2 separate regions of the Homo sapiens genome follow, and region 2 is linked to region 1. Evidence: fine-mapped expression QTL. A gene starts in region 1. The other region holds a variant in brackets. All regions are shown on one strand. Distances are between the middles of the regions. Region 1 holds the start of ELOA (elongin A). Region 2 has its middle 24 kb from the start of ELOA.

Evidence for each region. PIP is the estimated chance that this variant, and not a neighbour inherited with it, causes the effect.
Region 2: its variant is fine-mapped to the expression of ELOA in whole blood (INTERVAL, PIP above 0.99).

What each region holds. Positions count from the first base shown.
Region 1 is chr1:23,740,943-23,745,335 of GRCh38, forward strand. It overlaps ELOA (elongin A), which reads left to right and starts at 2,529. Exons shown (of 11, transcript NM_003198.3): 1 at 2,529-2,636. The coding sequence starts at 2,562. RefSeq lists silencers at 2,331-2,560, 2,711-3,190.
Region 2 is chr1:23,717,261-23,721,653 of GRCh38, forward strand. No RefSeq gene overlaps it. Among named protein-coding and RNA genes, the nearest start is that of ELOA, 24 kb to the right of the region's middle. The variant C/T (reference allele first, on the strand shown) is at 2,070.

The sequences.
Region 1 (4,393 bases):
GAAAAGTTTTTTTAAAAAATCAGAGAATTACACATGTATAATTAGCTGCTCATCCTAGAAGTCATATATCCAGACCAGGCGTGGTGGCTCATGCCTGTAATCGCAGCACTTTGGGAGGCTGAGGCGGGTGGATCACTTGAGGTCAACAGTTCGAGACCAGCCTGGCCAATATGGTGAAACCCCGTCTCTACTAGAAATACAAAAATTAGCCGAGCGTAGTGGCGCATGCCTGTAGTCTCAGCTACTCGGGAGGCTGAGGCAGAAGAATTGCTTGAACCTGGGAGGCAGAGGTTGCAGTGAGCCCAGATCTCGCCATTGCACTCCAGCCTGGGTAACAGAGTGAGACTCTGTCTCAAAAAAAAAAAAAAAAAAAAGTCATATATCCAAATGTAAGAGTACTTTGCAGGTAAGCCTGACTCAGTCTGACATAGGGGTGGCTGTCTGGGAGCAGCACACCCACTCCAGGATCCCCCAGAAGCATTCGTTGTTTCTTTCTGTTTTTTTTTGGTTTTGTTTTTTCTGTTGCCCAGGCTGGAGCAGTGGTGCGATCATGGCTCACTGCAGTCTTGATCTCCTGGGCTCAAATGGTTCTCCTAACTCAGTCTCCCAAGTAGCTGGGACCACAGGCACGCACCACCATGCCTGGCTAATTTTAAAATTTTTGTATTTTTTGTAGAGGCTGGGTCTTACTACGTTACCCAGGCTGGTCTCAAACTCCTGGGCTCAAGCAGTCCTCCCGTCTTGACCCCCAAAGTGCTGGGATTACAGGCATGAGCCACTGTGCCCAACCTCATTGTTTCTTTTCATTTTGGTTATTGAGCTCTCTCTGGATAACATCTGCAGAATGTTTCATGTGTCCCGAGTATGTGCCAGGCCAATTACTCAGCAATTCTGCTTCAAGAATCAGTCTGTATTCCATTACACCAGTGGTACATTTTCAAAATGGAAGGAATATAAAATGTAAAAGTATTTGCTACGCAGAGGAGGGAGACACTACTGCTGGGACTAGAATCGAAGTTTTCTCACACCCAGTTCAATGCCTTTTCTACAACATCCCTCAGTTGAGCCTTAGGGTACCAAGTGGATGGTCATTAGTCTTGTATGGACTTTATATCCAATGCTGATTATAAGGTCTAGATGATGCTAGGTGGCAGAGATTCAAAGTTGGACAGGTCGGTTACTGTACTTGATAAATAAACAGCCCAGTGGCAAGACAGATAAATAAACTGACCATTTACACCCTGAAAAGGTGGTCAGTTGCTTAGGGAACTGGGGGAGGGGCGCCAAATGGAGGAGTAGGGACATGGTAGAGAGGGCTTTTCAGCATAGTGAGTGAATGAATGCTCATTTGAAGAAACAACTTGTGTTTAAGATGTTTTTCTTTCTTCCAGAGCTAGAATCTGGAAGAATCTCTGGGCTTTCCTGCTTTGAGGGAGAGATCAGGCTAGGTGCATTGCCAATTTGCTGCTGAAGATCTGATTAGGTTCTGCTTTGATGTGATCAAATGAGATGTAATCAGTGCTGGTACTTTAAGTGAGTTTGCAACTATTTAGTTGCTCTTTTTAGTAGTAGTATTAGTAATGGTAAAACTTAGTGCTTTTAGGATGAGAGTAGACGGCCTGAAGAATAATATCTTGGGCTCTTCTAATCAAGCCATACGGCTCATTGGCAAGTCATCAGAGGAAACATCTATCTATCTATACATTCATGCAATAAGTATTTATTTAGTGCCTATGTGCCAGACACTGTTTGTGGGGAAAACAAGACACATGGGCTATTATTGCCTCATGGAAGGAACTAAGCTGTTTGGATTTTGAAAAATCCCTTTCTCTGGGCCTCAATTCCTCGACCTGTTCAGAAATGTGCGCTCACAATGGTCCTAGACATCTTAGATTCAGGTTCCATTTTCAGTTCTTTCCTGTCCTGCGGCCATCTGCAAGTTAATTTGGTCTCCCTGAACCTCAGTTTCCTCATCTGTAAAATGAAGATCATACAACTCGTTTCATCAGGTTGTACTGAGGCTGGAAAAGATAGTCTAACTACTGACGCATCGTGTGCTCAGCCTAGGGTGGCTGCTACCGCGGGTGCCTGCGGACTCCTAGGACGGGCACCAGCCCGGGACCCCTGACAAGGTGTTGATTAGGGTGTGGCTAAGCCCCAGGCGGGAGAAAGCGTTGGCATTTATAAGGCCAGGGTCTGGCGCGGTGGCCTCATTCCGTCTTGAAGTAGACCCTGGAGAGGTCTTCCAGGCTTGGGCTCAGCACGCGAGCACAGGGAGCGGGGGTGCCGGCGGCGGAGGCGCGTACGGCCCGAGCAGCCCCCAGCCCCCAGCGCGCACACTTGGGCCAGGGGCGCGAGGAGTGCGCGGCCGCCGGGTGGGCGCTGGGGAGCGGGCCCTGGGGGCGGAGCCTGCAGCCCACCGCCCCCCACACACCCCAGCCGAGGCCCGGAAGGGGCCAGGCGCGCTTCCGTCTCCGCCGGGGATGCACGGAGGGCGGAGCTGCGGCCCGAGGACGCGACGCGAGCCCAGTTCCGGCGAGGAGGCCGCGCCAGTGACAGCGATGGCGGCGGAGTCGGCGCTCCAAGTTGTGGAGAAGCTGCAGGCGCGCCTGGCCGCGAACCCGGACCCTAAGAAGGTAAGCGAGGGGGCGGCGCGTAGCGGGATGGGCGTTGGGTCGGTGAGGGCCCCGTAACGGTCGCGGCCCGAGCGTGGCGGGGTTCGGGGGCTGGGACCCTGAGCCAGGCCCCGCGGGGCTGGGGTCGTGAAGTTCGCGGCCATTGACCGCTGCCCGCGCGTTGGGACCCCGTGCGTCGGGCGTCGGGACGCGGGGCCCCGGCCGCTCCCCCTCCCTCACGGGCCCGGGATGGGGGCGCGCCCGGTGCGGACACCGCGTGCCTAGCGCTTCCTCCCAGAGGCGCTCCGTGGCGTCCCGAGCCAGCTGTTTCCTGCGGGAGAGCGTGCCCGGGGCGGGAGGGCGCTGGCCGCCGCCTCGTTGGCCTCCCGGTGCCTGCGCTGGTGCCCGGCTCCCCGCGGAGCGGCGCGGACTCCCCAGCGGGTGCGTGTTCGCTGGGAGGAGAAGACGGGCGCCCGAACGCTGCGGAGCCTGGACTCGCGGTCTGGTCCGCGCCTCTCGGAGACGCGGTTACTACTCTCCGGCTGGATATCAGAGCGTGGACCTTTCGCTTTCTCAGTGAATCCCTTTCAAAACAGAATAAAGCCTCGCGTCACCTAAGCATACTCCTGAAAACTTAGGTTGGAATTGAAAAAGAGGCGGGGGCCCGGGGTTGGAAGTCGCAGCTAGGTTTCCTTTTGGCCATTAATAGGAAGGTAAGAGCTACCGTTTCTCGTTGTTCGAGTGATGGACAACCATTTTTAATTGTAGTTAACTAGTTTTTGTTGTTTATTGTACAAACTGAATATTAAGTTAAACGCGTTCTTGTACCTTTTCATCTTTCTGTCACTCACTTCTCTGGTCTCCAGGAGACAGTCTGGTGGTTGTCAGGATTTTTTTTTTTCTTTTTTTTTTTTGAGGCGAGTCTTGCTCTGGTCGCCCAGGCTGGAGTACAGTGGCGCGATCTCGGCTCACTGCAACCTCCGTCTCCCGGGTTCAGGCAATTGTCTGCCTCAGCCTCCCGAGTAGCTGGTATTGTAGGCGCCCGCCACCACGCCTGGCTAATTTTTGTATTTTTAGTAGAGACAGGGTTTCACCATCTTGGCCAGGCTGGTCTTGAACTCAGTTGTCAGGATTTTTTAAGTGGAAGTACAACGATGAAAAAGCACTTATGTGTTTGGCATTCTCCGTCATCATTCTGGCCGGGGCGGGCAGTTCTAGGAGTTGGAACTCAGTCCTGGTGGAAAAGGAAGTCGTGGAGGGAGGGCTAGGGCCGTGGGGGAACTGCTCTGCTGAGCCTCTTCCTCACCTGCTGCTTCCTAGGACTAACCTGAAAGGCTAAGGTACCAGGCTGAAAGTCAGTGCTCAGAAAACCAATCGTCATTCTTTGGGGTTTTTTTTCTTGAAGAGCCACTTTCTCTTTACCTTGTTCTAGCCTGTTGGAGGTAGGGTTTCTGCAATTCCAAAGGCCGTACACAGCCTCTCACCATCAGACCACTTTTTAAGGCTCTTCGTTCATACCTAGCTCGAAGATTCACTTCCTCAGGAAGCCATTTTAGTTACAAATCTGGGAAAACTTAAAATGCTTTCATTGTGCCATGTTTTCTGTTGCAGCTTCAGTACCGTACCTAGTGGTCAGGCATACTTACAAGTTTCTTTTTACAGTAACCCCTTGTGGACATCTAATAAATGGTCATTATTTTTTAGTACTAGTTTGTTTTCCTGAACACTGTAAGATCTGTGACTGACGTTTGATACCTTAAAGCAGTGCCATATAATAA
Region 2 (4,393 bases), 24 kb before region 1:
AAGGGAGAAAACCAGGCAGATCTATGGCCAGTCATAGAAAGAAAAAGAAAGGGAGAAAACCAGGCAGATCTATGGCCAGTCAGTCTCTTTGGGACCTCTGGGAGTGAAAATCCCCGTCAGGAATTGTTGTCACTTTTCTTCTGTGACATCTGCTTCAGGCTTCCAGCCTTCACCCAAGTCAGCTAAATTGCCATTGTTTCATTAATTTAACAAATGTTGATTGAAGGGCCAAGCCCATGCTGGACCCATCGATGTATCGCCTTTATTTTAGGCGCTTTGCTCTAGTTCACTTACTTATGGGTTCACCAACTATTTAGTGCCCCCACCAGGGATATAGAGATGGTTTAGTCACAATCTGTGCCTGCAGGGAGCTCACAGTCTAGTGAGGGTACCACACAATGAAACACAGAGGAAGACAGACGTGGCTTCTACCCTCATGGTGCTAGACTACAGTGGAGGAAGTGGGGAGGGAGCATAAACCAATAAAAAGTGGACAAAAAGTAATACATATTAAGTATAGAGTTACCATTTGATCCAGCAATTCCACTTCTGGGCATATTCCCAAAAGAATGGAAAGCCCAGGAACCAATATGTGTACACTGATGTTCATAGCACCCCTATTCGTAATAGCCAAAAGTGGAAACAACCCAAATATCCATCAGCAAATGAATAGATGAACAAAACGTGGTCTGTCCATACAATGAAATATTACTCAGCCTTAAAAAAAAAGGAATGAAATCCTGATACGTGCTACCATTTGGGTGAACCTCGAAAACACTATACTAAGTGAAATAGGCCAATCAGAACAGGACAAATATTCTATGATTCCACTTGTGTGAGGTACCTAGAGTAGTCACAGTCACAGAGATAAAAATAGAACTATGGTTGCCAGGGGCTGGGGGAGGGAAAAATAGGGAGTTATTGTTTATTGGGTGCATAGTTTGAGCATGGGATGGAAAAAGTCCTGGAGATGGATAAGATGGATACTGGTGATGGTTGCAGTGTGGATCTACAGAATGCCACTGACTGAATGGCATAGCTAAATGTTAGATATATGTATTTATTTTACCACAACACAAAAATAATACATTTGAGACTTTGTCTTGAAGAACATGAAATTTAAAATTATGAAAATAAATTCATTTTATATTTAACCAACAAAAGGTAATACAAATAGTAGTCATATAATAGCCATCATGGTCAGTGCTACAGAGAGTCCTATCTGGTGTTGGGAGAGAAGATGGCAGGTAAACCTGCTCAGGTTAGTGGGGTTCTGAAACCGAGAAGGGCTTCACCAGGAGAATGGCATTTCAACTAAGCCCTGAAAGAGAAAGCTTGGTGAGAAGGGGTGGGTGTTTGTGGAAGACAAGACATTCCAGGCAGCAGGAACAGCAAGGCGAAGGCCAGAAGCAGGAGCGCCCCTTTGGTGGAGTTGAGGAATTACAAGGTTTGTATGTGGAACACAGAGTGGGGTGGAGGTTGGGCTTGCAAAGGATTTTAGGCCCCTCCTAGGAGCAGATGGAATCCATCAAAGAGTTTGGGCAAGGGATTTTTATTTTTAATTGGTAAGCCCCTTGATTTGGTTAAGTAGAAAGGAATGGAAAATAAAGTTTATTGAGGGGTTTCTATGTGTCAGCTGCTTTACCTACCATTCCCTTCTTGGGTAGAAGCCCTGTGAGGTCAGAATTACTAGGAGATGAGTTCCTTGAGGACAAGGATGAGGCATTCTCAAATCTCTGATACTAAGTAGGACACTTGGCTCAGATGATGTGCTCAATAATGATCCACATGGTTGATTTTACAGATGAGGCTCAGGGAGGTGAAGCCATTTACCCCAAGTGAGCAGGTGAGGAGGCCGTGCAGCCTAGGAGCTGTGCCAACCCTAAGCCCATACCCCTTTCTAGACCATGCTACACATGTCACAACCCCAGATTTCCCTGCTGTTTTCCAGAGCCTCTTCCCTGGGTCCCTCCTCCCCAGAACACTGGTGTGTGTACCCCTAGGCCCAAGGGGTGGCCAAGGGGCATCTGTCTGTGAGTGTGACTTTGCACTTAGGAGCTGGTGTGACC[C/T]CTGGGCTGAACGTGAGGCCCTGTGGTGCAGGACAGAGACTAAGGCAGTGTATTCATTTCCTATTTCTGCTGTAAAAAAATTACCGCAAACTTACTATCTGACATTTATGGAGGCCAGAGGTCCAAAATGGGTCTCACTGGGCTATAATCAAGGTATAGCCATGGCTGTGTCCTTCCTGAGGCTCCAGGGAGAATCTGTTTGCTTGCCTTTTCCAGCTTCTAGAGGCCACCTGTGTTCCTTGGCTGGTGGCCACCTTCAAAGCCAGCAATCCCATCACTCCAGCCTTTGCCTCTGTCATCACATCTTCTCTGACTCTGACTCATGCTTCTCGCTTTCACTTAGAAGCACCCTTGTGATTATTTTGGGCTACCTCAATAATCCAGGATAATCTCCCTATCTTGAGGTCAGCTGATTAGCAATTTTTATTGTATTAAAATAAATAAATTTGTAATATAAATTGAAATGAGGTCTTGCAATGTTGCCCAGGCTGGTCTCAAACCTCTGAGTTCAAGTGATCCTCCTGCCTCGGCCTCCCAAAGTGCTGGGATTACAGGTGTGAGCCACCATGCTTGGCCTGATTAGCAATTTTAATTCCCCCTTGCCATGTAAGATAACATATTCACAGGTTCCTGGGATCAGGGTGTGGACACCTGGGGTGGGGAGGGGACATTATTCTGCCTAATGCAGGTGGGAAGAACAGCATGTAGGTTAGGGGCTAGTTCTCCTTGTGCCACCACATCCCCAAGAACTCTTAGGAATCTGAGAATGTTAAATTTAAACCTAGCCCCAGGTCATTATGAAGGTATATTCATCGAAGTAAGAGAACAGAATAGGATAGGATAGAGTAAAAACTGTATTTAATGGTTTGTTAGTTTTTAACTTTTAAATATTTAGATAAATGGTATGTGGGCCTCTGTATACACTTTTGCCATCAGCCATGCAAATATTAGAGGTCCGTCTAACCCAAAGTCACATAGCCGGTGAGGAGTCAAATTAGAACACAGATGTGTTACTTTCACCACACAAGGCCCCTCTTCAAGGAGAAGTAAGGCACTGTCTTTCTCAGCTTCGAGGCTCTGTATCTCTGCCTGTTTCCTGGTGGTTACAGGCTATGTGCTCTGGAAACTCCTGCTGAGAACCTGGCCTCCTAGCCCTTCTGAAGCTGCAGTTCTTCTCTCACACCGTGTATTGCCCTATGCGGATACCTCTCATACAGACCCTCCACTGGGCCGTTCAAGTCCACGTACTTATGGGTTCACCAGCTAGTTAGTGCCCCCAGCAGGGATACAGAGATGGTTTAGTCACAGTCCCTGCTTGCAAGGAGCTCACAGTCTAGTGAGGACATCACACAAAGAAATGGACAGTGACGACCACACGAGAGACTCCTCCAGTGATGGGTGCACGATAATCTGGGGCAGATCTGGGGTGGGGTTAGGTACAGGCTGCTCAGAGGAAGTGATTCTCAAACTGAGTCTTAATGAGGCCAGGAGGCTGAGGGCTGGAATTTTGGGTTGGCATATTTATAGACCCTGAGGCTGCAATGGGGCAAGTTTGGGAAATCCCAACTCTGTCATGATGACTAGAACAAAGAGTAAGAGGTGAGAGGGGCCAGAAGTAAGGCTTAAAACACTAAGAGCCACAAAAAAAAAAAAAAAAAAAAAAAAAAAGCAAACAAACAAAAAAAACACTAAGAGCCTCAGCCCAGGAATGGTGGCTCATGCCTGTAATCCCAGCACTTTGGGAGGCCAAGGCAGGTGGATCACCTGAGGTCAGGAGTTCGAGACCAGCCTGGCCAACATGGTGAAACCCCATCTCTCCTAAAAATAGAAAAAAAATTAGCCAGGCATGGTGGCACACATCTGTAATTCCAGCTACTCGGGAGGCTGAGACAGGAGAATCGCTTGAACCTGGGAGGTGGAAGTTGCAGTGAGCCGAGATTGTGCCACTGCACTCCAGCCTGGGCAAGAGACTCTATCTCAAAAAAAAAAAAAAAAAAAAAAAAACCCAAAAAACACTAAGAGCCTCATTGACCCTAACAGGCTGTAGGCTTTATGAGGGGCCTAAATGTTACTGTTCATACTGTGCCTATGTACCAGGCACATCAGTGCAAGCAAGGCACGTGGCACATAGTAGATGCTTAGTAAATTTTTGCTGAAAGAATGAATGACAGGGCCAGGCACGGTGGCTTACACCTGTAATCTCAGCACTTTGGGAGGCCGAGGTGGGCAGATCACTTGAGTTCAGGAGTTCGAGACCAGCCTGGCCAACATGGTGAAACGATGTCTCTACTAAAAATACAAAAATTAGCTGGGCGTGGTGGTGT